Homo sapiens: one gene and its partners. The protein of the gene in region 2 interacts with the protein of the main gene of each other region in a pairwise test. Each region holds a gene or a part of one and is shown on either strand. Other genes may lie near its edges. The genes, in order: SSX2B, TNPO3, SMURF2 and CAMK2G.

Region 1 (8,079 bases), on a different chromosome or scaffold from region 2:
TGTCATAACTCACAATCTTCCTGCCACACTACGTTGCACCTGTCTTGTGGGCTGGGGGACCCAACTTATGGATCCCATTGTCCCAGGGAGAAAGAAAAATCAAATGCTTCGGTATCTCTTTTAGGGTATCCTCTCCTCTATTTGCATGGAGGACATGGCACTCAATATCTAGTAGCCGAATGTTACATTTGTGTAATACAGAACTATATTGGGATAAAATAGAATTTGTTCCCTCTGAGACACAGGTAGAGGTACGTCCACACTGACCTGGGTGGCAGCCATCTCTTCCTGCACTGCCAGGCAGGGCATGCTCACAGATCTGGGGAACCTCTGTTGCTCCTGGAGCTCCACAATCTCCTTCCAGGCACCCTCTCCCTCTGGTGGCTGTGACAGCCCACATGTGGCTTTGTCTCCCCTGCTTCTTTGCCTGCCCCTCTTCTGCCCACCCTTCGTATCTCTGTCTCCCACTGTCCCTGCTGTGACCACAACTGCCTCTCCCTCCCTGCACTCTCTCTCTCCTAGGGCTCCTTGTCTTCGGTAAATGAACCCACAGCCTTTACATTTTGATTGGGGACAGAGCCCGGGGCTTGTTCAATTCCCCCTCCCTCCACCACACACACCTGTCCTCCTTAAAGTTTCTGAAGTCAGTGAGCTCCAAACTCAGCCCCTCCTGCACCTGCCAGCTGTAGGACCTCTGACAAGACACCTACCATCTCTCTGGGACTCCGTCTCTCATCTATTATATTGGCATAATGATGATAGTGTCCTCCTTCGAAGGCTGGGGAGAACCAGGAGGCCAAGGTGATGGGCCACGAACGGGCAAAACAGCTCCAATCCTGCCTCCACCTGGGGCTGGTGTTTCAAGTCCATTGTGTGTGAATGGAGCTTTGATGTCTCCATTGACACGCAATGGTTTGTTCTAAAATAGACTCCCCTCTGCCCTTCCCTTCCCCACAACTGTTTCACCTCTGTACCGTGCAATGGTACCTGTGAGAAAGAACTGTCCCATTCCCAAATCATCATCCCCACCCCAGCCCCCAGGCCTTTGGTTGGTGAGACCCTTGATGGGCGCTCTCATGCTTCTGTCCAGGAGACTTTCCCACCAATTGCTCCCCTGCATGGAGACTAAGTGGACTCTTCTATTCCCTGTCCATCACAGGGTCTACATTGCACGCATCTGCCTTATTCTTCCACGTTCCCCAGATGACGATTTCATCTGTGTCTCCTCCCACATCCACCCAAATGGACCGTCCCAGACCTTGAAACCGAAAATCATTCAGAGAGCAAAGGCCAAGATGCCCAACCACCTGCTACAGAATCCTGCTCCAGGACTGAAGTGTATAGTCTGTATCAAAATAAAAACTGGAGGACAGGTGCTGCGGCTCACGCCTGTAATCCCAACACTTTAGGAGACCAAGGTGGGAGGATTGCTTTGGCCCAGGAGTTTAAGTCCAGCCTGGGTAACATAGAGAGACTTTCTTGACAAAACCTTAAAAAACTTAGTGGATCATGATGGTGCACGCCTGTAGTCACAGCTTCTCTGGAGGCTGAGGACGGAGGATTGCTTGAGCCCAGGAGTTCAAGGCTGCACTGAGCTATGATCATGCCACTGCACTCTAGCCTGGACAGAGCAAGACCACCATCTCTAGAAGAAACAAACAAACAAAACCCAACAACTGGAAACATCCTCCTCTAGAACGGGGGTCAGGAACTCCTGTCTGCCTTGTTCCCTGACGTCGCTCCAGCACCTAGAACAGCGCTCAGCACGAGGACGCACTCATTAGTGTTTTGTTGAATAAATGACTCCTTTGACACAGCAATTCCACTTCTAAGAATCTTTCCTAAAGAAATATGCACACACGTGCACAGAGCTGTGTGCACAATAATGGCACGAGCAAACAACTGGGGAACGTTTGCAAAGGTTTATTAACTGTCAGTGACTGCTACAGGGGAATCGGATGAGGGGAGTACATGCTGACCAGGAAACAGAGTGAGGGGAGCTTGACCAGGACGCATGGCAATGGGAAAAGCAGATGGCAGATGCTTATACTGGTACTTGGTGTGTGTGTGTGTGTGTGTGTGTGTGTGTGTGTGTGTGTGTGGTGTGGTTTGTGTGCGTGTGTGTGTAAATGCAGAGGAAAAAATCTGAAATTAAACACTCAGAACTGCCCTCAGTAGTCACATCTGGGGAGAGAGGAGGGTAATGCTGTTCCATGCAGAGGTAACCGACAATACTTGTTTTCTAAGGTAGGTGCATGGATACACAAACCAAAATATGCATTAAGTATGTCTTGCTCATCAATGAAAATGTTAGTATCTAACAGAATGACACAGTGTAAGAAAATACAACGTAAACGCTAACATCGAACTCTTGGCACACTAAGAAAAATGACGCTCAACTTTTCACTGTTGTGAACACTTGCTTTCACTTGCTATGCACCTGATGACGAGGGGTCCGCAGCCATGCCCATGTTCGTGAAAGGTCACCACGTTCTGCTTCTCATCATGGGCATGTGTCGTATCCCTGAGGCTGAGGCAAGAAGAGAGAAGGAAATAAGTGGCAGTGAGTTCCCACCACGTGGCAACGCAATCTCAACTCCTCCTGACCTGCAGACCCTGCACACTCCGATTCTGCCCTATCTCAGGACCTGCACACGCCTTCCACGGTTCCTCGAAGTGAACCATCTGTTCATGCCACAGTGACTTCCTCGCCTGGGTTATCAATTCCTAGGCTAGAGAAAGGTGTGGCCCGCATATCAGGGCTTACTTGGGGTTTGGGACCCCACAGCATCCTGGGTAGGGAGGATCCCCGGATATATACAGGGCAGGGAGTAGAAAGAGCATGGGAAATCTCTCATCGTTCAGCCTCAATGCTGTACAGTAGAAAATTGTAAGAAGGGAATGATTTGGGGAGCAAGTGACAGATGGGATACCAGTATCATAACAGAATAGCACGTCTGCAGGGATGTGGGGGATGAGTGGAAGGTTCTCTTACGGAGTTACTCGTCATCTTCCTCAGGGTCGCTGATCTCTTCATAAATCACCAGCTGTTTTCTCTCACGCAGTCTGTGGGTCCAGGCATGTTCCCCCCTTTTGGGTCCTGTGATGGAGAATAGTTGGAAAGTGAGGGTTGGGAAGGTTGGAGAGTGTTAGGCTCTGTTTACTCAAAAAAAGGAGATGCCTGCTTCCTCCCAAGTGCCCATGGGCCTTCTTCATCCAGTTTTTCACATTCTCTGGCTTAGAGAGGCTGAGACCTTAGATCCACACCAACATAGGCCAAATGCCAATTAAAGTTTTAGCTTCTGGCTCCTTCCCTTCTCAGGCTTAGATTCCCAACCTCTTCACTTACGGGAACATTCCCCCATACCTCCTTTCATCCAGCACGTATTTGTTAAGGCCACACAGGCGTACCTTGTTTTGTTGCACCTCATGTTCATACTGCTTCGCAGATGCTGCAATTTTTTTTTTTAATTCTCACCAATTTTACACTTTTCCATTATTATTATATCTGCTATAGTGATCTGTGATCGGTGAGCTTTGATATTATTACTGCAATTGATTTTATTGTTTTTTAGTGTTTTAAAATAATTTTTGTTCTTTATTTTGTGGGTACGCAGCAGGTGTATATTCTTATGGGGTACATGAGATGCTTTGATACAGGCATGCAATGGGTAATAATCACATCATGGAAAATAGGGTATCCATCCTCAAGCATTTATCCTTGTGTTACAAACAATCCATTTACACTTTTAGTTTTTTTTTTAATGTACAATTAAGTTATTATTGACTATAATCACCCTGTTGTGTGTAATTGTTTTGGGGGTACCATGAACTGCACCCATAGAAGTTGACAAACTGAATCGACCAATGTTGTGTGTGTTCTGACTGCTCCACCGATGAGCTGTTCCGCGTCTCTCTTCCTTTTCTTGGGCCTCCCTATTTCCTGAGACACAGCAATACTGAAATGAGGATTATTAACAACCTTACAATGGCCGCTAAGTGTTCAAATGAAAGGAAGAGTCGCATGTCTCTCACTCTAAATCACAAGCTAGAAATGGCTAAGCTTAGTGAGGAAGCATGCTGAAAGCCAAGACAGGCTGAAAGCTAGGCCTATTGCGCCAAACAGCCAAGCTGTGAATGCAAAGGAAAAGTTCTTGAAGGAAATAATAATACTAATACTCCAGTGAACACACGAATAAGAAAGCAAAACTGCCTTACTGCTCAAATAGAGGAAGTCTGAGTGGTCAGGATAGAAGACGAAACCAGTCACAACATTCCCTTAAGCCAAAGTCTAATTCAGAGCAAGACCAGAACTCTCTTCAAGTCCATGAATGCTGAGAGAGGTGAAGAAGCTGCAGGAGAAACATGTGAAGCTAGCAGAGGTTGGTTCATGAGGTTTAAGGAATGAAGCCGTTTCCATAACATAAAAGTGCAAGGTGAAGCAGCAAACCCTGATGGAGAAGCTGCAGCAAGTTATCCAGAAGATCTAGCTAAGATCACTGTTGAAGGTGGCTACATGAAACAACAGATTTTCAATGTAGATAAAATAGCCTTCTATTGGAAGGAGATGCCTTCTAGGACTTTCATAGCTAGAGAGGATTGATTTCAACTTTGAAAGAAGTTCTACTGTGGGTAAAATGCTATCCAATAGCATCACATACTACAGAGAAATCCTTCATGAAACGGAGAGCTAATCGATGTGGCAAATTTCACTGTTGTGTTCTTTTAAGAAACTGCCACAGCCACTCCACCCTTCAGCAACCACCACCTTGATCAGCCAGCAGCCATCAACACCGAGGCAAGACCCTCCACCAGCAAAAAGAGTGTGACTCACTGAAGGCTCAGAAGATTGTTAGCATTTTTAACAAAGAATTATTTTTAAATTAAGGTATATACATTTTTAGACACAACGCTATCGCACACTTAGTAGACTACACTATAGTATAAACATAATGTTTTTATGCGCTGCCAAACCAAAAAACAACGTGTGTGACTCACTTTATTGCAGTGGTCTGGAACTGAACCTGCAGTATCTCTGAAGTACACCTGTATTGGGTAACAGGCATGGCATTGAGCTGAGTCTTAATCAGGTAATGATCCCAGGTAATCACAGATAGAATTGCTTGAGCACCTTTCATGTCATCAGGCCTTCTAGATTAAATTTAATGTCTCCAAACAATTTATGAACTATGATTCCTTATTTCCATCTTACGGACTAGGAATCTGGAGCTGAGAAAATCTGAAAGACTTGCCCCAAGTCACATGGTTTTTTCTATGGGTGACAAATCAAGTCTATCTCTGGAAGTCATGTCTAACATCTCATCTGGAGCTGGGCGAGCTCCTCAGCCCAGTCTGGACCCAGGGTTATCTGGGATCCATGCCACACACCCAGTCCATATACCTGAACATCGCCAGGGAAGCCAGAGGGATTGTTCCTGAATTGCTTCCTCTTACCAGATCTCTCGTGAATCTTCTCAGAGGTAGTTGGTTTTCCCGGGGGGCACAGCTCTTTCCCATCATTTTGTGGGCCAGATGCTTCTGGCACTTCCTCCGAATCATTTCCTTCCTCTGCTGGCTTCTTGGGCATGATCTTTATAATGTGAAGATCACAGATAAATAGTATCAGTGACATATCTATAGTGCTTTTGAGCTTACAAAGGGTCTTCACATGCATTAGCTTATTCAATGTTCTCAACAACACTGGGAGAGTTACACAGGCCTAAATTAGGAGAAACCTGGGAGGGGAGGTTAGAAGGGAAAGGAATGGCCTAAGTGAATATGGTTTCCAGGGATAGAATGCTTATCTTCCCACTCTTTTAGGACTGACATTCTTGCAAACAGCAAAAATCTCCATGTAATTGAGAGTGTGATATACAGATGATTTGGAGAAGAGTAGCATTCTAAGAATTCACAAGGTCTACAAAGGGAAGAGGTTCTGTAAAATACAAGGGATCCCATATAAGCTTCTAGACAGCTGCTGGGAGAGTAAATGTAAAAACATAGGGAGGCGACAAAACACTGCTGGGAAAGATGGTGTGGGGAGATGAATACAGGGAAGGGAGAGGGAAAGAAATGGTTTGCCGAAATTAATCTAGGCAGCAAACAAAGCAGTACCAGATATGACATACTACCCTACTGGGGCACCGACATTCAATGTGGAATTCAGTGAGGTGGTACCCATACCAATTCTGGTTGCATTGGGATGTGTCACTGACCAACAATCTTAAGCTACTTTTTTTTTTCTTTCTTTCTTTCTTTTTTTTTTTTTTTTTTTTTTTTTTTTTGAGACGGAGTCTCACTGTGTCGCCAGACTGGGGTGCCGTGGCATGATATCGGCTCAAGGCAACATCCGACTCCCGCGTTTAAGCGATTCTCCTTCCTTAGCCTCCAGAGTATCTGGGACTACAGGCAGGCACTACCACGCCCCGCTAAGTTTTGTATTTTTAGTAGAGACACGGTTTCACCATGTTGGGCAGGATGGTCTCGATCTCTTGACCTCGTGATCTGCCCGCCTCAGCCTCCCAAAGTGCTGGGATTACAGTCGTGAGCCACCGCGCCCGGCTCTTAAGCTACTTTTCATTCAGCTTCCTCCCTTATGAAATAGTGAACCATACATGTCAAATAGCCTACAGTAAAGTCCTCTCTGAGCTTGTAAACACTGTTTAAATGTCGTAATAATAACAATTAATACCTTTCACAATCCTTCTTTGAATTCAGTCTCCACACTGGCAACCCAACTCCCAGATCCCTTTACCCTCCAAACCAGAGTTGAATCTGCACTTGTGGGATCACTCATTCAGGGGCCTCCGAGGGATCCCCTGGGCTGGGACTGGGCCTTCCCAGATGCCCCAGGTGCAGACAAGGCACTCAAGGAGCTCACAGTAGGGAGGGGCCAACAATCAAAGTGATTCCTAAGCCATGCAAGTGGCCCCAGCAACACAGCAGAGACCAGATGGTCCTTCCTGTTGAGAGAGTGGGTGTCTCATTGGAAGCACCAGCAGGCCCTATGGGGTGAAGCCCTAGTGAGCAACATCTGAACTTCATAGACAAATGCAAATGTGAATGAGCTTTAAATGGCTTGGAGCTCTGGATTAGACTACCACTGCCACTGCGCCCCAGGAAAATTCTTTAACATCTCTGTACCACGATAGCCTCATTTTATTATTATGTTGCTGATAACTATGATCTAAAACATGAACTATAATTCTTTACTTCCATTTCATGGACCAGGAATCTGGAGCTCAGAGAACTTAGAAGATTTGTGTCAAGTCACATGGCTTTCATATGGATGAAAACTGAAGTGTGTGACTCATTATTATTTGGAGATAATAGAAACAATGTCTTCTTAAGGATTAAATAAATTAATCCATGTGAACTGCTTGAAATAGTATCTGGCATCACTATGAAAACAAAAGAAGTATTAACAATCGCAACTGTTGGTACTATCAAGCCGTCGGTGCGACATCAGGTGTTGTGATAGACATGGGGAGAAGAAGGCAGTGAGGGCATTTTTGATATTCTCCCACTCTTACCAGTGTTCGCATCCGTGGAGGGACAAAGGTTCTCTGGTCCTTTAGATCTGAGAGACACTCACCTTCGGGGAGATTCCCTGGAGCCTGCCGAAAGTCATCTGAGGACGTTCAACTGAAAGAGAATACATCAGAATTTTTCTTTGTTGGTAAAGGTTTCCAAACTCTAGAGAGACTTCTGTCGCATCAGGGTATTCTGCAGCAGAGGGTTATGAGTCCACTCATTGTTGAGGAGTTATTTCAGATTTGCTTCTGAATTATGTTTAGTCATGGTTGGTGCATTTATCTGTGGCATCAATTCAGAATTTTCCATCTCATGGTTTATCACATGGGGACTACACCCCATCACAGTCTCATCTTATTCCATTACATATCTTTTACTTTTTCCCAAATAATTAAATTGATTGGTTAGGAATCTGAACTGTATCCACTCAAGATGTGCAACAACTGAAAATCATTGTACACTTCAAATGGGTGAATCTTATGGTATGTGAATTAAGCTGTTAAATGTGTGATGAACCATGGATGATTTGGTCCAGTGGCTCTGAAA
Region 2 (8,079 bases):
CCCTTTGCCTCTTTGTTGTGCTGGATCCACTGATTCTTGGATTCCATGATGTTTTCTTGGGTTACTCTTCCATTTAATGGATCATCGAGAAGGGAACCTTCATCCTTTCTCTCATTGCTTTTCTGTTGGTCTGTTTTTCTTGGGCTGCTTTTACCTTGAGTTCTCTAGTCAGCCTGGGGGTTATAAGCTAGACTGCCAGTGTTCTAAAGCCAGTTCAGGGAATGAAGCCAGGGGATGGATCTCACAACTAAGTATGTAGGTTTTAATTTAATCTCTTGTTTTTCAGCATGATACTCCTGTCTTTAGCTGAGTCTGTTGTCTAAGAGTCCAGAGACCACCTACTTCAATCTTTCCACAGTAAACCTTGAGTCTTCTGTTATGGTGGGAGAGTAGTAGCCTGGTTGCTCAGAGTCAGAGAGGAAATTTAGGAGTCTACTGCTTCTTACACAGATTTTGACCCTTTTATTTATTTAAACTTTTTTCTTTTTTTGTTTTAAGGCTGCATTACTAGCCGATTCCCCCCCCACCCTTTTTTTTTTTTTTTTTTTTGAGACAGAGTCTCGCTGTCTCCCAGGCTGGAGTGCAGTGGCGCCATCTCAGCTCACTGCAAGCTCCGCCTCCCGGGTTCACGCCATTCTCCTGCCTCAGCCTCCAGAGTAGCTGGGACTACAGGTGCTTGCCACCATGCCCAGCTAATTTTTTGTATTTTTTAGTAGAGACAAGGTTTCACCATGTTAGCCAGGATGGTCTCGGTCTCCTGACCTTGTGATCTGCCCACCTTGGCCTCCCAAAGTGCTGGGATTACAGGCATGAGTGACTGCGCCCAGCCCACCCCACCTCACCCTTTTTAAAAAAAGAAAAAAAAGAAAAGAAAAGTTGGGGTCTCGCTATATTGCCCAGGTTGGACCCGAACTCTTGGTCTCAGGCAATCCTCTCTCCTCAGTCTCCTGAGTAGCTGAAATTACAGGTGCACACCACCACATCCAGCTCCACTCCTTTATTTTTTGTTCCGCCTGTGCATCTGCCTTCAGATGTACCTGTGCTTCCAATTCCCCAGTCTTCCTGGGTTTTGCAACATGAATAGTTTGTCCCTTGCCTTCCCTATTCTCGTCTCATCCTCCCTCCCCACCCCCAGGCAAATATCAGCCTTTTCGGATCTGCTAAGACAGTTAACACTGTCCTTTAGCTTTCCAGTTTCCACAGTTCTATTGATATCTGTCACCTGTTTCCATTTTCTTTGTCTTTATGTGTTTTTGCCTTTTTTAAAAAAGATCTTTACTCTGATTTTTATTGGATTTTTGGAAGGACCTGAAAGCAGACAGCTGTGTTCAATCAGTTAGTTTAGTCATTTTAAACAGAAGTCCCTGCATTAGTTCTTGAATTTTATCAAAACCTCAGTTCATTGACTGTTCCTTACTTCTTCTTTATTAGGTCTTCTTGTTTTTACTTCTCTCCTTACCAAATGTGGATTCCAAGATCTATCATTCTAGTCATTTTATAAATACACCATCACCTTTCCCCTCCAATTTGGTCAGACTTCAGCATGGTTGTATGCAGCTGCTTCTCCTCTTGTCAGATCTAGGTGCTTTGCATCTCTCAATCTTCTGAAATTTCTGGGACCTTGATCTTTTGGTTTATCCTATGTCTTGTCTGCATCTTTAGACTCCTTTACTGAGTCTTTCCCATCAGCATCCAAATAGCTGAAATATTTCTCATAGTACACAAATATTTTGGGGTAGAGTGGATGCCGCCTTTGCCCAACTTTACTTTCTTCTCTGCTTTTACCCTTTCCCAACCCTTTCTTCAAATGCAGAAACTAACTCATCTTTTGAAAGCCCAACCTAAATTCTGCTTTCTCCTTCAAGGCTTACCTGCTTCTCTTCAGCCAAAAGTGATTTCAGCCCCCAATGAATGCCTAGAGAACTTTACTTCATTGTGTTTGCCTTTTTATAAACCTTTTTGAAAATAAGTGTTTTGCCTCCCCTACTAGACTGGGATTCTTGTCACATTTGTTTATGTAGTCCAATACCCATAGTTGAAGAAATAAACCATGGTTATTAAGATAAACAATCAAGACACTTCACACACAGGTTCTTAAAAATGTTGATTGTCAGAAGTGCATACATGCAGATACTCAGTTGGATAACTCACATTTTTCTTTATCTGCGAGTTTTATTTATTTTTGCTGTCACTTTTCACCATATACATGGTTAAAAATAAACAATATTCAGCACCTTTAATGCTCTTCAGTCTTTCCAGTCTTTTTTTTTCTTTCTTTTTTTTTTTTAAATCCTTTATGAGATGTATATGTTGCCCTCATTTCATACTTGCAAATATTCAGGTACAGAAAGGGAGAGGAACTTTTTGACTCAATAAGGCTCTCTTTGTTTATTTATTTTTTGAGACAGAGTCTCACTCTGTTGCCCAGGCCGGAGTGCAGTGGCACCATCTTGGCTCACTGCAACCTCCGCCTCCTGGGTTCAAGCAATTCTCTTGCCTCAGCCTCCCAAGTAGCTGGGACTACAGGCACATGCCACCATGCCCGGCTAATTTTTGTATTTTTAGTAGAGATTGGGGTTTTGCCATGTTGGCCAGGTTTGTCTCAAACTCCTGGCCTTAAGTGATCTGGCCGCCTTGGCCTCCCAAAGTGCTGGGATTAGAGGTGTGAGCCACTGCACCTGGTCTATTTATTTAGTTTTTTGAGACAGGGTCTCACTCTGTTACCCAGGCTGTGGAGCGCAGAGGTGTGATTACTGCTCACTGCAGCCTTGCTCACCTGAGCCTGGGTTCAGGTGATCTTCCCACCTCAGCCTCTTGGACAGCTGGGACTACAGGCATGCACCACCATACCTGGCTAATGTTTTGTATTTTTTGTAGAGTCAGGGTCTTGCCATGTTGCCCAGGCTGGTCTCAAGCCCCTGGGCTCAAGCACTTCTCTCACCTCAGACTCCCAAAGTGCTAGGATTACAGACATGAGTCACTGTGCCTGGCCAAGGCTCTCTTTAAGTGGTCACTAAATGGCATTTGTAACCAAAAGTAATGTGTGTGGTGGTTTTTTTCTTTCCGGAAGATTTTGTCTACTGGAACAAAAGCGTGTTTTAACTGTAGTAATAACTATAGTGTTTTAACATCCATTTGAAATTGGTAAGGCATAGAATTTGTGTGGTTTGCTAAAAAACTACTTTCAAGAATATGTATTTGTGAAACTATTATCCTTATTCTTCTCTACCACCCCACCTAACTAATCCGAGAGTAATTGAGTATAGTTCGAATGACCTGGTGACAGTAGACGTGGTATAGAGGTATAATTTGAATATGCTTTAGCCTGTACTGTGAGTTAGCATCTTTTCTCTTTCTCTAATATTTGTATAAAACAGCCATTTTCTGAAGAATCTGTATTCATTGCTCTAAACTTCCACCAAAATTTTTGGAGATGTACAGCCATGGTTGTTTTATGTGATAGATAGATATCACTGATAACTTCAAAGTGTTCTGAAAGAGAGTATTTTGAGGCAGATCTTAAAGGAATCTTAGTAGCCTGTCCTGTATATTTAGTAGTTTCATTTGTCCACCCCTACTAACCAAAATTAGTAGAAGTTGTAGAGAGCTATTGAAGGAAAGACCATCTCTTCATAGGGCCAATTACTTAAGCGACTCAGTTATAAGTTTTTAATTTAAGTTGTAAGTAGGAGATAACTTTTACAGAGACAATCTTTGGGTTAGATATTACCTCAAAAGTTTTATAGTTCAGTATGGAAACTGAATAGGCATGCTTCAGCATGGGTGTATGCAGCTTTTTGATGGAAAGCATCAAAAGCACAAAGCAGATGAAGTAAAGTCATGCTTTGATAGACTAAGTTGGCATTGTCATGTTTGGTTTATCACATGTCCATAGGAATTTTCTTCTTAGATATCATATCAGAAAGGTCTTGGGTTGATATGGTTTGGCTATGTCCCCACCCACATCTCACCTTGTAATAATACCCCCCGATTTGTGGCAAGGTGGGGCCAGGTAGAGGTAATTGAATCATGATGGGGGGTTCCCTCATACTGTTCTTGTGGTAGTGAATAAGTCTCACAAGTTCTGATGGTTTTATAAATGTGAGTTCCCCTCCACAAGCTCTCTCTTGCCTGCCGCCATGTAAGACGTCGCTTTGCTCTTCCTTCGTCTTCCGCCATAATTGTGAAGCCTCCCCAGCTATGTGAAACTGAGTCAGTTAAACCCCTTTCCTTTATAAATTACCCAGGCTTGGGTATGTCTTTATTAGCAGTGTGAGAACACATTAATACATGGGTCATGGAATATCAGCTTCAAACTTCTTTGCTAGTACTTTTCCTTTTTGGAATTTATTGATTCTTTAGCCTGGTTATAAAACCTAGGGTTTTTGGCTTTTCTCTGGTCATTACTGATTTATCTTGAAAGTTTAGGCATTTTTTGTGTGTGCTTATGCTTGCACCTTCCAGTCAAAACATGCTTTTGAAAGGAAAGCCTTCTAGAAAATAGAAAATATTCCTATACAACTTCAGTAGATGAGTTCAGTCTAGGAATACTCTGTGCCTTGCACTGATAGAAACTGGGAGTATGTAAATAATGAAAACCAAAGATCTTTCTCCCAGAGAGTGTACCAATGTAGCTGTGTCATCCAGTGTAGTAGCCACCAGTCTAGTGTGACTATTTAAACTTAAAATTAAGTAAAAGTTAAAATCAGTTTCTTTTTTTTTTTTTTTTTTTTTTGAGACGGAGTCTCACTCTGTCACTCAGGCTGGAGTGCAGTGGTGCAATCTTGGCTCACTGCAACCTCCACCTCCCGGGTTCAAGCAATTCTGCCTCAGGCTCCCGAGTAACTGGGATTACAGGTGCATGCCACCATGCCTGGCTAATTTTTTGTATTGTTAGTGGAGATGGGGTTTCACTGTGTTAGCCAGAATGGTCTCAATCTCCTGATCTCGTGATCCACCCACCTCAGCCTCCCAGAGTGCTGGGATTACAGGCATGAGCCACTGCGCCCGGCCTAAAATCAGTTTCTTATTTGCACTTACCCACATTCCAAGTACTGTACGGTACAAATATAGAACATTTCATGTCTTTGAAGTATTGGAGTCTATGTTTGTGATTTTGTGACAGTATTTCTGTTGCCATGGTAGTCTGTTATGTGGTGGCATTTCTCCATATTTTGATTAGTTTCTTGTCTTGCCAGGCCTTGGGCCAAAGTTGATAGTTTGATTTAGGATGTAAAATTATCAGGGTACTACTATATTTTCTAATTACAATAGTTTTTCCAAAGTTTTTCAGATATTTCTTCAGCATTCTTTTACAGTGATTGATTGCACTGATGTTTATGGAGGAAATGGAAAGTAGGTTTTATAGATTTTTTTTTTTTTGTGGCAAAACATTCAAAACATAAATTTAGCATTTTAACGTTTTTTTTTTTTCTGAGACAGGGTCTTGTTCTGTTGCCCAGGTTGGAGTGCAGTGGTGCGATCATAGCTCACTGCAGCCTTAAACTCCCAGGCTCAAGCTATCTTGCCTCCTCAGCCTCCCAAGTAGCTGGGATTACAGGCATGAGCTACCGTGCCCAGTCATTTTAACCATTTTTAAGTGTGCAGTTCAGTGGTATTACATACATTGACATTGTTGTGCAACCATCACCATCATCCATCTTCAAAACTTTTTCATCTTGTAAAACTAAATCTATGCCCACTAAACAAAATAGGTGCCCATTTGCTCCCCGCCCCAATCCCTGGCAACCACCATTCTACTTTCTGTCTCTATGAATGTGACTATTCTTGGTACCTCATGTAAGTGGAATCATACAGTATTTAGCCTTTTTGTGATGGGCTATTCTCACTTAGCATAATATCTTCAGGGTTCATCCATGTGCGTAGCATTGTCAGAAATTCCTTCCTTTTTAAGGCTGAATAATATCCCGTTGTATGTATATATACCACGTTTGGCTTATCCATTTATCCATCAATGGACACTTGCTTGCACCTTTGTGAATAATGCTGCTATGAACATGGGTGTATAAATACTTGTGGGAGTACCTGCTTTCAATTCTTTAGATATACAGTATACCTAGAATTAGAATTGCTGTATCATATGGTAATTCTATATTTATTTGTTTACTTATTTGGGGGAACTGCCATACTGTTTCCCAGATTTTTAAGCTCTGTTAAACTTAAAAACAAATTTATTTCTTAGGAAGTTGATATTACTCAGACTACCTGTCCTGTATTTCCCTCACTTGTACCATGGTGCTGAAATGTTACCAGAGAGTATTTTTACAGCTGTATAGGTGAAGCCTCTAAGATAAACCTTATTTCTCTTTACTGGAAGTTAACAGTATTGCTACAAGGGATAGTTTTGTAGTGTTTGTTATGTACATACTCTTAAAAGTACTAATTTAATTTTCTTCTTCTGGTAGAGTATCCAAAATGAAATTAGAAAACAAGTATTTTTCCTTTTGGTGGGTTTTCTGTTAACAGAGTTTGCATAATGGTTTTTACTTATTTTTTTCTCAAGCCCACAGCACAATTCTTTTTTCTATTTTGTGTTCATTGCTTCCTAGTTGTATTTTCTGTCTCAGTCATAGTGTAATATTTTAACAGTTATCTTCAAAGCAAGAGAATATATTTGGAACTAGACATGAAAACATAGATGTTTTGAGCAAGGCTCCATCTCAAAAACAAAAAAACTAAAAAAGGCCAGGCGCAGTGGCTCATGCCTGTAATCCCAGCATTTTGGGAGGCCAAGGCAGGCAGATCACTTGAGGTCGGGGTTCAAGAAAATATACATGCTTTTATATAAATAAGCATTCAGAGATTTAATTACCACTTTAATGCGTTATTACAATACTTTAAGTTAGACATATTACATTTATGTAAGTTTGAAAAATTTGAGTCTTAAGCACTGTTAACATATGCTTTGTATGTACAATAGAATTCTCATCTGGTTTATATGGGTTATAAAACTGAGCAGGTAGGCAGAAATAGAGACCAGTGTTGAAAGAAGATAAATTTTCTGTATTTTGGCTTTCAGGAAGCCTTTGCATGGGCTAACCATTTGTTTCAAATGAAATGGTTTCAAGCTTGGCATTTTCTATTTTTAAAGCAAGACTGCCTAGTATAAATAAGGCCCACAGTGAAAAGATTATCGAGTAATGCTTGACTTGGTCATTCCCAACTGAAGTTGGCTTTATGGATCTAAATTTATTTGTCTTTTTCAGGGCCATTCTTGAGATTAATACCAACATTCATAGGTAATTGAGGATTATTATTTTGGATAGGGATTCTTGTCATGAAAAAATTGGGGCAAGATATCTTAGTACCATCTTATGTGTGACCAACAACTATGTAGTTCAGCCAAAATTCATTTGTCAGAGGTCATTATGATATAGGATTATTTAAAAATGCTTGTCTCAGAACTTCTGGGATTTCAAAGAATCCGGGAAGACCCCACTGTGCAGTGCTGTCATTGGCCTTATTGATTCCTTTCTTTTATTTTGATTCAATTTCAGTTTATTTTAGAGATAGGGTTTCACTCTGTCACGCAGTCTGGAGTGCAGTGGCAGGATCACAGCTCACTGTAACTAGGGCTTCAGTGATCTTCCCACCTCAGTCCCCTACCCCCACCCCCTGAAGCTGAGACCAAAGGTGCGCACCATCACATCCTGCTAATTTTTTTTTTTTTCCTGTAAAGACTGGGTCTTGCTATGTTGCCCAGGTTGGTGTAGAATTTCTGGTCTCAGGTGATCCTCCCACCTTGGCCTCCCAAGGTGCTGAGATGACAGGTGTGTGTCATTGCACCTGACCCTTCCTTTTAAGTAATTGTTTTTAGCTACGAATATCTTTCCTCCTAAGGAAAATACTTGTTTTCCTTTTGATTATATATTTAGCTCTTATGGAGATGGCTGTGAAAATGTAAGTTGACTGAACTTACCTCTATAAGGGAACTTTTTTGCTTCTAGAAAATGTATTTATGTATACCCAAGTGTATTTTGTGAATCTGGGAGCTTGCTAGGAGATTTATGATTACTTTTCTTTTACAATTTTTTTTTTTTTTTTTGGAGGATGGGAGTT
Region 3 (2,763 bases), on a different chromosome or scaffold from region 2:
TAGAGTTAGCTGGACTTTAGTCCACTATCATTAATACAGTAGTGAATTATAAACCTTAAAATCCACAGCTTCTAGAAAAAATACAATTGATTTCTCCTTTTCATTTTGAGAATTTTACTGCTCGACATACCAAGGTAGGGCTGGCAAATATGAGCCCCTGTCATAGGCCTGCCCTACAGAGCGGAGATGTATTATAGCAAAGATGGTTGCAGACTGGTGACAGGACCAAGATGCTCTTCCCCACTAGCCCCTGACCCCCCTCAGAAATCCACCTATGCGGTACCCCCAACAGGTACTACCAACTGAGCAGTCACCACGGCCGGAGAAAACGGGCACCTTCCCTGCTCTGCGAGGAGACAGAAAGCTGAGCTCTGCAACATGACAGAGGCATCAACTCAGGATGGCATGTGTTCTTGAACTTTTCATTTTGTGACTCATGTTGTCACCCTCCATAGAGCCAACCATAAATGTTTTCAAAACGATTCATTACAAACTCAATATTCTTTAAAAACGTTGATGCTGTGACAGTGCAAACAGCATTGATTTTATTGCTCGACTTCGGCATGGGCACATACATAGTTAATTTTTAAAAACCATTTATACAGATGTTACTGATAAAGCTCATGTAACAAATGAATGAAAATACAAAGAATATCAAAGCTAAAACACTCTGTAATAAATACAAATACAATGAAAATGATAAAACTTTGTTTTTAAAGTCAGTCTGAGAGAAGAATATTACATAAAGTGAACTAATTACATCTAGAAATAAAACAACTCAGCATTTGGAACAATCATCCTAACATGTTAAATACCACAAATGGCACCCGTTGACTGTACGCTTAGAAAACAAGCAGAAGGAGCCACTCTCCCAAACTAAGGATGGTTGGAACAGCCTCTAACTCCCAACAATCCAATCAGTCCAATGCACTGGAAATTCAAAGCCCAGATTTAGTGTTGTAAAGTAAAGCGAATTACATTGTATTTGAAAGAAGAGAATCTTGTGCTCCGGACTGTAAATACATGAAAGAAAAAAAGGCTTGGTAAAAAACCCATTCGGGGCAACAAACTATGTGCAAAACAAAATGTACACTATACACTATACACTATGCACTATTTAAAAACTACACCAAGATACAAGGCCCTCTGAGGCAAGACTTACCTCTCTGTACTGCCTATGAGCTCTACAAAGGAATCTCTGTTCATAACTAAGCATTCATGATGGAAAGGCAAGAGTATGAAAACAGATATCACATATCTGAAATAACAATACAGCTAGAGGGAAGACAAGAAAAAACCAGTTAAGAGGGACATGGAAATAAATATTCACATTAAACATGAGGTGCAAGTCCATGGTTCAATAATACATTGGGGGTTTTTGCTTAGCACCTATTTGGAAGTAATCGGGTAATGTAACTTTGAAATGGAAATCTAAATCATGTTTTTATATATGTTGGTGATAACATAGACTGTTATGGAGAGTAATTTCTTTTTTTTTTTTTTTTGGGCGGGGACGGAGTCTCACTCTTGTCGCCCAGGCTGGAGTGCAGTGGTGCGATCTCGGCTCACTGCAATCTCTGCCTCCCAGATTCAAGCAATTCTCCTGCCTCAGCCTCCCAAGTAGTTGGATTACAGGAGTGCGCCACCATGCCCGGCTAAATTTTGTATTTTTAGTAGAGACAGGGTTTCACCACGTTGGCCAGGCTGGTCTCGAACTCCTGACCTCAGGTGATCCGCCCACCTCGGCCTCCCAAAGTGCTGGGATTACAGGTGTGAGCCACCATGCCCAGCCAATTTCTTTCTTTTAAAGCTCTATTAAGTCATTAGTATAAAGTTAAAAAGGCACTCAAAAAGCAATGGTATTTGCCTGCTTTATATTGTATATTAAAATAAGTGATAGTAGCATTTCATTATTACTGTATCCCTGTCAGTTATGATTTCTGTATTCATTATGTACTTTTTTACTGAAAGATTTTAAAAGTAGGCACAATTATAAACTGCACTAGTGCTTTAATATAAAAGAGAGATGGGTCTGCAACCAGTAAAGTACTATCATGACAGCTGAACATTACTGATTATCAAATAGCATAGAAACCACTTCCATACATTTCAAGATGCTCTTCAGTACTCAGAATGCAATGTAAAAAAAACAAATTGTTTGAGAGGAAAAAGGTAGGCATAAGCATATTACCACTGCACAGTTACAACTATGACTAGCTTGCTTGTGGCAGTTGAATTTGGCCAAATGAAATACATTAAAATACTTAAAAACTACACAAGTAGTTCTCAACTTTTTTAAAGCAGCAAAATCTCCACTTTTTTTATCCCATCCATTCCTCCCCGCCCCACTGCACCCCATGAAAGCTTACTTGAAATTCCAATATACATAAGAAAAATGGGCTGTTCTGGGTAAAGGGGGTGGGGATATGGAGCCTAAGGCCCCTGCTCAAATACCAACTAGGCCTTCCCCCTCGCTCCCTCTCATTGCCCCTCTTCTCTTAAACCATTACTCCTGAGGCACCCCTGAGGAACCCTTTGGCTCCAAGAACACAGACTGAAACCCACTCCATCACATGAAACAGAACACAGAGGACCTATTTACTTGATAACTTTAAATTTTGCAGCTTAATTATCATGAAAATTTGCTTATTTCACATCAATGTAAAAAAAAACTGATAGTACATATTTTTGATGGTTGAATTTAAAAATCCAACTGTGATTTCAGATTTTTTCAATCCCTCACCCCAGAGTTTTCGTTGCTTC
Region 4 (8,079 bases), on a different chromosome or scaffold from region 2:
CCCATGGTTGAGGGAGATTTCTCTTTCAGGGGATGATACCCTCTTTTTAATCTTTCCTTCCCCGACCTTCAACTGTTCCTGCTGAGAGAAGGGCAGGGTCTCTCTGCTCCCTTCTGCCCTGGTTCTCTTGGCCGGGACCGCAGGGCTGTCTGAGATGCAGCAGGTGTGTGTTTTCAGCATCGCCCACCCGCTCCTGATGTGCAGCCTGAGGTGGAGGCTGTTGCCTTGCCCAGGGACTGGATGAGGGGGTGGGAGCGCGGCACGCCACCCACATCTGTTCAGTGTCCTGCGGTGGCCGCGTCCTTTTGCCTCATGTTGGATGGTGGTGGTCACAGCGCCGGTGTGTGTGCATGTACGTGAGTGTGACTAGAGGTCTGGTGGTGGGAGCATCATCGTCCCCAGACTTGAAGTGTGTCTGTGTCACTCTGCCCTGCTCCGTGTCCCAGTTCTTTTCCCCTTCTCCCTCCAGGGGTGCTTTCTCTGTGGTCCGCAGGTGTGTGAAGAAAACCTCCACGCAGGAGTACGCAGCAAAAATCATCAATACCAAGAAGTTGTCTGCCCGGGGTGAGTGTTCCCTGTCTTGACCTCTTCCTGAGGGTGCCTCCAGGGGCCATGGTTTCTTTTGAGGAAGCCCCAGGAATTGGGGGTTGTGCGTTTTAGCACTTGGAGAGGAGTTGGAATTTCAGACTGGTTGGACTTTGTGTCAGGCTGAAGCCAGAAAAGGAGTTGCATGGGGGACTGGAAGCGCCCAGGTACAAAAGAATGAAGGAAGAGATGCAAGTAGCTGCAGTGGCCCCCAAAGGCTCAAGGGAGTTCGGTCTTCAGGGAGGTGGAGGATATGGGGGTAGTGGGTGGTACAGAATGGGGAGCTCTTAATTTGGGGCATTTGGAGCCTCTCCCTTTGGGGCAGTGGTGGCTACTGCAGGCCTTTCCTGGTCCCTGTGCCCCAGTGGTGACTTAGGATGGAAATGCAGTAAGTGAGCAGCTCTGACAAAGCCAGCCTCCCCTGCCCACCAGGCGGCAGAACAGACTCCCAAGGGAAGGGAATCTGTAAACATCAGGGGAGGCTGCTACTGGCGAGGGCTTCTCAGGAACAAATTCTGCCAGATGAACTTGATTGCTTTTTTGATCAAATTACAAAGTTGGTGGTGCAGCAGCAGATGTAGTCTGTCCTGGGTGGAGGGTGATGCCTCATGGTCTAGAAATCCCAAAGGCCCGGTTTGGGCAGGAACTGCACTGCCTCCGAGTCTGAGGAGCATAAAGGCCAAGGCCTTGGGGCCTCACTTGCGAGATCCTCCCAAGTACCTGAGGCTTGGAGGGTCAGGGCCTGTCTTTCACACCTTGAACCTACACTCTCTGAACTTCCTATTGGGTACTTGCCAAACTCACCTCATCTGATAGGTGTAGACCCAGCAATGTGTGAAGTGCTCTGGGAACAGGTCTGGTGAGTACAGAGGTCAGATCTCGGAGGGCTGCAGGGTGCAGCTGGGGGACAAAGGTTGTGAAACTCAGAGAAAGGAATTAGGGCTGGGCAGTAGGATGCCATAAATATATTAGGAGCCAGGACACATGCCCTGGGGAAGACATGGGCTTTGGCCAATAATGACACGGGTTTCTCTGGGATAAGAGACATAATAGATGTCCCAAATGCTTAGAGAAGCTCTACAATTCCACGGGCTTCTGTCGTGTTGGCAGTTGTTCTGGGACCTGTTTAGCAGGGCCGTGTCCACTCCCTGACTGGGGACTCTCTCTCCATCCCTCTAGTAGGGCACTAATTGCTGACTCCCATCCAGCTCCATCTCTTGCTGTTCGTGTACATTGCCTATAAAGTTGGACTTGTTTGTTTTCTTTCTCTCTGGGTACCTTGAGTCTGAGGATGGTTGCCATAGAGATATGTGGGCAGTCAGATACCCTGGAGTGGGGGTGGGGGGGACAACAGGGGCTGGGCTCTCTGGCAGACATCCTCTGGCCAAGGATGGAAGGTGCAGGCAGGAACAATGGCTTGAGGCTGGATACCTCTCTTGCCCACACAGCAGAGCCCTGGTGCATCAGAAACAGGGCTGGCATCTGGTGTCTCCAGTTGATGATGCAATGCTTTGCTCTCTTCATCTCACCAGTGTCCTCTGACCCATGGGTAAGAGAAGGAGAGATGGCTGGGAGCCGAATTCTGGGATGTGAGGATAGGTGATGTGGTGACTTCCTGCAGCTGCCTGACTGGGGCTTTCATTTCCTACTCCTTCCCTACCTGCGTAAATTTCCATGACCTGTGTGATAGCCTCCCTTTCCCTTCCTCACCTCCTTTTAACCTTGTCCCATCTTTCCCAATGGATATCTTTCCCTGGCCAAACTGGATGAGACTTGATTTCTCGTTGATTTTTTTTTTTTTCCCCTCAAGAAGAGGATTCTTGTGTAAAAGTATATGCTTCAGACAGCAACTCCCCCTCTCCCAAGATGGATATGCCAAGACTGGGCTCTGTTGTGTGGCCTCATGTGCCAGGTTGACTTTGGGACAGAGGCACAGATGATAGGCACAGATGCCAGCCAGAGGGGTCAGAATGTGTAAGTGCCAGCCAGTACTGTGTGGAGGTGGGAAAGTGGAAAGGGGCTGTCTTGGAGATGGAGGGAACAAGGTGGGGCTGGACTATAGGTGTGGGCATGGGAGATGTGAACTCCTGGAGAGATCTGGGCCAGGGTAGCCATGGGCTGGTTCCCATGGGGTTAGGGAGTGAGGGCCATGGCTTCCCTGCAGACTCTCAGTTTACACTATATATTTTATAAAGGTGCAGCCACTGGAGCTGGGTTTCACTCATCGCTGTCTGCCTAGGTCTCCGCAGGTGTTGGATTTCTGTGTCTGGGAATGTCGTGGGCCCACCAGGGTCATCTGTGAAGGTCTGAAGGGGCTTGCTGTGTTCACTGGGTCTTCCTGCCTCCTGTCTTTCTTGTTTGTGATTCTCTGGGCTACAAACTGAAAAGATAAAAAGAGGGTATAGAGCTGTTTCTCCTTGGCATCCCTGGTGAGGTGGCTAGGAGTCAGGGAGAGGGATCACCTGTTCTTCTGGGGGGGTCCAATCGAGACAGGAAGCCTTCTTTTGGGCTGTTGTGTCTTGTCACTGTGGCCTCAGAGGCCCACATTGGCGGCTAGGTTGCAAGGTGGGGAGTTCATGCGGATATGCGTTGAGCACTGTCTTTGTCTGCGGGCCTGTCTACATAAAGTCACTGAAAGTCACATAACGTCACTCCGTTTGCTTCAGAACCGTGATAGGAGTGGAGCTGGGCTCTTAAGGGAGCCCATGGTTCCAAGCTTAGCTCCACTAGGCCGAAGGAGGCATTTAAAATAGGCTTGGATGCAGGAGCTAGTGGGCCAGGTGATGGCAATGATAAGTCGTTATTTTAAGATTTAAGAGCACCCCCCTCAAGGAGCCTGAGCCCTTATGTCTTTTTTTATTTTTAAATCTTCATATTCCCTTCTTATCTTTATTCATATGCATACAGATTTTCACCTCGTGGAGCATAACATTTTATATCCTGCTCTCTTTGCTTATATCCAAAGCATTTCCCCCATATTACTACAGTTGAAGGGCAAATGGTCCTTTCTTCTACGTCGTTTAGGATTTATCCCTAAAACAATCAGCATCACAAGAAACTTCTGTATATGTACCATTTATCTGGATTCCAGTTGCTTTTACCAAGATAGATACTGGGGTAATGCCCTTGGCCTTACTAAGAGATGCTACCGGAAACAGTGTTTTGAAATCTGTTATAATACTTTAACATATTTATTTAATCTGTACATTCCGTGTGAAGAAATTTCTTTTGAAGCTAAATGTAAGCAAAAGCTTTCCTCTTTGTGAGGACCTGAGAGGTGAGGGAAGGGTCCTTATGTGTTTCTATACTTCTGCATGGGCAGGCCCTAGCGAAGTGCCTGACGTATGCCAGCCACATACACATTAAATGAATGGGTCAAGAGGACTATGTAACCAATCATGGTTGCCTTTTGGCTTTGGCTCCTAGGAAACTCAGAGTCAAGTTGCCAGAGCCCTTGTACCCTGCTACAGACTTGGGTCCTCCCTTTCTGATCCAGGGAGCCAAGCTGCAGACCTGATACGGCTGCTGGAAGAGAGGACAGATGAGGATAAAGACCTGTGCTTGGGGCATAAGGCAGAGTGGGAGATGTAGGCAGACATTTAGCTGATGATTCCTCCTTCCCTGTCACTAAATGGCACTATAGGGCCACTGTTGGGATCTCTTCCAGGTAGTGATTTTCAATTTTAGTGTGCGTAAGGATCACCCTGAGTACTAGTTTAAAAAATACAGACTTCTGGGCTTTAGCCACAGAGATTCTGCTTTAGGAGGTCTAGGGTGGAGCTGCAGAATCTGCATTTTTAACACATGCTCCAGTGAATTTCATGCAGGTGAGGCATGAGCCACTCTTTAAGAGATGCCACCTAAAATCTGCAACAACAGTTGCTCTTGCCATGCCCTCTGGAATTCAACAGACACACCTTGGCCCATCCTTCTCCAGATTGTGTGTCTGCCACTATGTGGCCATCTGTGCACATGGGCTGTTCTGTGATTAGGGGCCTCGTTCTGGGCCTCGGGATTGGGGTGTCTGTGTCTGAGGCTGCGGCAAGCTGGGTGGCTCGGGTTGTGGCATGTTGGCCACCAGAAGGGTAAAGGCTGTCCCTTTCTGGGTCCAGCTGGCCCTGGGGACTGAAATGGGATCCCCTGGATGGTGCCAGCTGAGAGTCCCCGCCCCCTTAGTGTTGGCCTGAGTAGCCCCCATGACATTTGTGTCCCCTGTGGTATCTCCAAGTGAGACTTTCCTGTTAAGGATCTGGGTGAAGTGAGGGAAAGAGAAGGGAGGGGGAAGCAGTAATGCAGGGAGTGGGAGAAGGAAGAGAAATCCACACAGCACTGGAACACAGGCCTCGAGGAAGCATTTAAGGAGGCTGTGTGCGAAACCATGCTTTCCTCCTGAGGATAAAACAGGCCAATTTCTGTAAACAGAGAAATGGGCATCCTGCATATCAGTGATGGAGCGCCTCTACTTTCTCTCCTGAAGGGATGGAAGCCGACTGCAGGTCCCTCTGTGCAAAGGCTTCTGCCAGGCGGCTTTTGTCACGCGGTCACGTTGAGCTGTGGGCCTTAGCACACACAACACTGGCCTGTCCCCCTCCCCTCCCACCTGTCTTCCTAGAGTGACTTGGGGTGCTGCATCATGGTGTGGGGATGGAGGTGGGAAGGTTGCCCTGTCCTGTCAGGGAGGCCCCTGCCTTCTTCCTGCTGCTTCCTCTGGTCCCTTGTCACCATACCCTTGTTCGAAGCTGTGCTGAAACCCTAGAGGTGAGTGGCTGACCCCATTCTCTGCTGAGACTGGAGATAGGGAAGGGGAGGCTGGGTGTGACCATTCCTGCTCCCATCTGTATGCTTGCTGCTCTCTGAACAGCTTTGGCAGACCAACAAGGGCCTGATCCCATGGGTGCCAAAAGGGTGGTGACAGGAGGAGATGGGCACTTTGCACCTCTTGAATGCCTCTCTGCAGAGCCCCTTTGTCACCTACCCATGGCCAGACAGATCTGCCGCAGGACCGCTGGGGAAATCAAAGCACAAAAGCTTTGTCTGGGGTCTTTTTTTTCTTTTTTGGTTTTGTGCTGCAGGTGCCCATGACTTTGCCAGGGCTCAGACCCAGCGTCCTCAGGCCGTGTGGCCTCCACCCACTCCTTGGCGCCTTTCTTTAAAACACAGGTTCTGGATACTTTGTTCCTGTGATGAATCTTGGCATATCACCTCACACCTCTCCATCTAGGCCCCAAGCTCCAAGCCTGGTGGAGCAAATCCCTCCTCGTTGCTGGCTGAGGCCCCATTCCCGTCTGTACCCACCTCTCTGGGCTGTGCGGTGGGGAGATTTCCAGCCACTCCTCCCCAACACCATCTCCGCTTCCTGGGCCCTATCAGCAGCAGCCGCAGCTTCCCATCTGCTCCCCTCTTTTCTCCTCCCTTTCTTTCCCTTCCCCCCTGCTTGCTGCTGCCCTGGGAGGAGCTATTTTTAGGGGCTGCTTCCTGGGATGTTTTACTTGGGGCTGGTTACCATGAAGGAAATGTCACCAAAACAGTGGGCAAAGGCTGCAGGCACCGGGAGCCCTGCCGGGGGGCATGGAGAACAGACGGCTGACCCTTTTCTGGCCCTTGAGAGCAGCCAGAGTGCCCCCAGGCAGAGCCTTGCCTTCTTGGGGCTTGCTAGTGACCCCTTGGGGATTTTCTCTGTCAAAGCTGATTGAGGGCCTTTTCGCTATAGGGCATTTCTTGGAGCCTCTCGCTTCCCTTGCCTTGAGATCCAGAGGCCAAAGTGGGGCTCAGGTCTTTGTGTCACCAAGTTAAAACTGCTTGAGTGAGGGTTGAAGATAAGGGGAGGATGCTGGGTACATGCACAGAGCCTTGGGGGTTCACATGGGACCATTTCAGGCCCCGTCCCTCTGTATCACAGCCCCCAGCTAGTCACCAGGTGTACATGTGTGAGGGCATTAGAAACCATGGTCCTGCTCTTGTGTGTCGGATGGACTTTGCTTTTAATTGGAGACTCTTTGCATCTTTAGAGTGAGATTCAAAGAGGAAGGGATGTGGCATCACAGTGTCAGGGTGAGGTCGGTGGGATCGTGGCTTGGGATTCCCACTGGTCAGTGTCCCAGGCCCAGGGCTGTGCATAAGCAGCTGGGGAAGGTGGATTATGACATCAAATCCCTGCGATGTCCTTGTTTCTGCTCCTCAGAGTGCCAAGGGGACCAGACGGCGGCCTCTGCTGCTTGGGAAGAAGATGAAAGGCACTCAGGAGGGCAGCAAGTGAGGCCGCCTCCCATGGAGCCCTGAAATCAGTGGGGTTGCAGGAAGTTTCTCACATCCATGTTTAGGGTCATAGGCACAGACCTGCAAAATACCCTTTACAAAGTTAAGAATGTCTTTGAGATTGGAACTTGGGAGAGTCCTCAGTCAGAGTAGGAATGTGCATCCTTTCCCACGTACAGAGGATTGTATGTTTACGTGGCAGCAGGATCTTATTTGAAGCTAGTGCTGGCATTTGTGTTTTTTTTTTAGGAAAATGTCACTAAGTCAAGCAGGCCCATCCCTGAGAGGGCCATGGAGAATCTGTGGCCAGCCCTCCCTGGCCCCCTGACCTGGCAGAGGAAGGAAAGGGCATTGGAGTAGGCTTCTGTCTTCAGGCCAGAGGGGGAGGTGGTTCAGGGGCAGGCTTGGTGCACCCCTTGGCTGCAAGCTATCACCTCCCTATCTGCTTCCTCTTTTCTGCCTCCCCTGGTGCATCTGGTCACTTCTTGCTGCCCTTCCTGTGAAATCGTGGCACCTTGGACCAAGTCCTGAAGCACTTGGGCAGAAGGCGGGAGAGGTTGGGTTTCTAGGATCCTTGTTTCCCAGGGCCTGGCTCTGGCCTGGGCTCAGACCACTCTGGTCTAGGCAGGCTGCTGGGGAAAGGCTGGAGCTGCTTCTGCTTTCTGCTCCTGTTGCCACCTCTGCTAATGATGGGGAAAACCTGCAGAGGGCTGTGGTTGGAGCTGGGCTGAAGGCCGGCAGGGGTGGGTCTCTCCATGGCAGTAGCACACAGGCAGGCAGGAAGTGGCCCTGTGCAAAAGCGGGAAGTGGCAGTTGTCAAACAGGAAGGGGGGGGCTGGGCTGTGGGAGGGGCGGGGATGAGCCTGGTAGAAAGGTGCGTGGAGGAGGGTCCACCTTGGAAGGTCTGAGCCTCTCCCTAGTGGTTACTGGAAGGAGGGGTGTCTCAAGGGGAGACACCTTTGCAGCACCTTGAGATGCCGAGCCAGGGCCCTCCCACTGTGGACCAAGCCCATTCAGTGGCCTCGCCCTTTTTGGGGTTGGAGATGCTGCGTCCAGCTGGGATGCCCTTGCTTTTGGGAAAGATGCTCTAGAAACCACTACTCCATCCTGGAACCCCTCTGCTGCCACTGCTGCTGGGATGGACCCTCTGCTTTTTTGCAGCCGTGGGCCAGCCCTGGATGTGACTACAGGACAGGAAGTGTCAGGGGAAGAGACAGGAGACAACAGCTGGAGAGGCTG

Evidence for each region.
Region 1: the proteins of TNPO3 (region 2) and SSX2B interact in a two-hybrid assay, tested with the Homo sapiens proteins (one large-scale study listed by BioGRID).
Region 3: the proteins of TNPO3 (region 2) and SMURF2 interact in a two-hybrid assay, tested with the Homo sapiens proteins (one large-scale study listed by BioGRID and IntAct).
Region 4: the proteins of TNPO3 (region 2) and CAMK2G interact in binary tests that used the Homo sapiens proteins (3 or more experiments, as listed by UniProt).

The regions. Positions count from the first base shown.
Region 1 is NC_000023.11:52,755,365-52,763,443, reverse strand, and holds the end of SSX2B (protein SSX2), read right to left. Parts: intron 7,645-8,079; coding exon 7,595-7,644; intron 5,591-7,594; coding exon 5,455-5,590; intron 3,944-5,454; coding exon of another isoform or gene 3,798-3,943; intron 3,101-3,797; coding exon 3,000-3,100; 3' UTR 2,996-2,999; intron 2,531-2,995; 3' UTR 1,908-2,530; downstream 1-1,907.
Region 2 is NC_000007.14:129,042,852-129,050,930, reverse strand, and holds part of TNPO3 (transportin-3), read left to right. Parts: intron 1-8,079. UniProt on the Homo sapiens protein: Importin, which transports target proteins into the nucleus. Specifically mediates the nuclear import of splicing factor serine/arginine (SR) proteins, such as RBM4, SFRS1 and SFRS2, by recognizing phosphorylated SR domains.
Region 3 is NC_000017.11:64,541,782-64,544,544, forward strand, and holds the end of SMURF2 (E3 ubiquitin-protein ligase SMURF2), read right to left. Parts: 3' UTR 501-2,763; downstream 1-500. UniProt on the Homo sapiens protein: E3 ubiquitin-protein ligase which accepts ubiquitin from an E2 ubiquitin-conjugating enzyme in the form of a thioester and then directly transfers the ubiquitin to targeted substrates.
Region 4 is NC_000010.11:73,865,474-73,873,552, reverse strand, and holds part of CAMK2G (calcium/calmodulin-dependent protein kinase type II subunit gamma), read left to right. Parts: exon of another isoform or gene 1-350; coding exon of another isoform or gene 351-352; intron 353-469; coding exon 470-564; intron 565-8,079.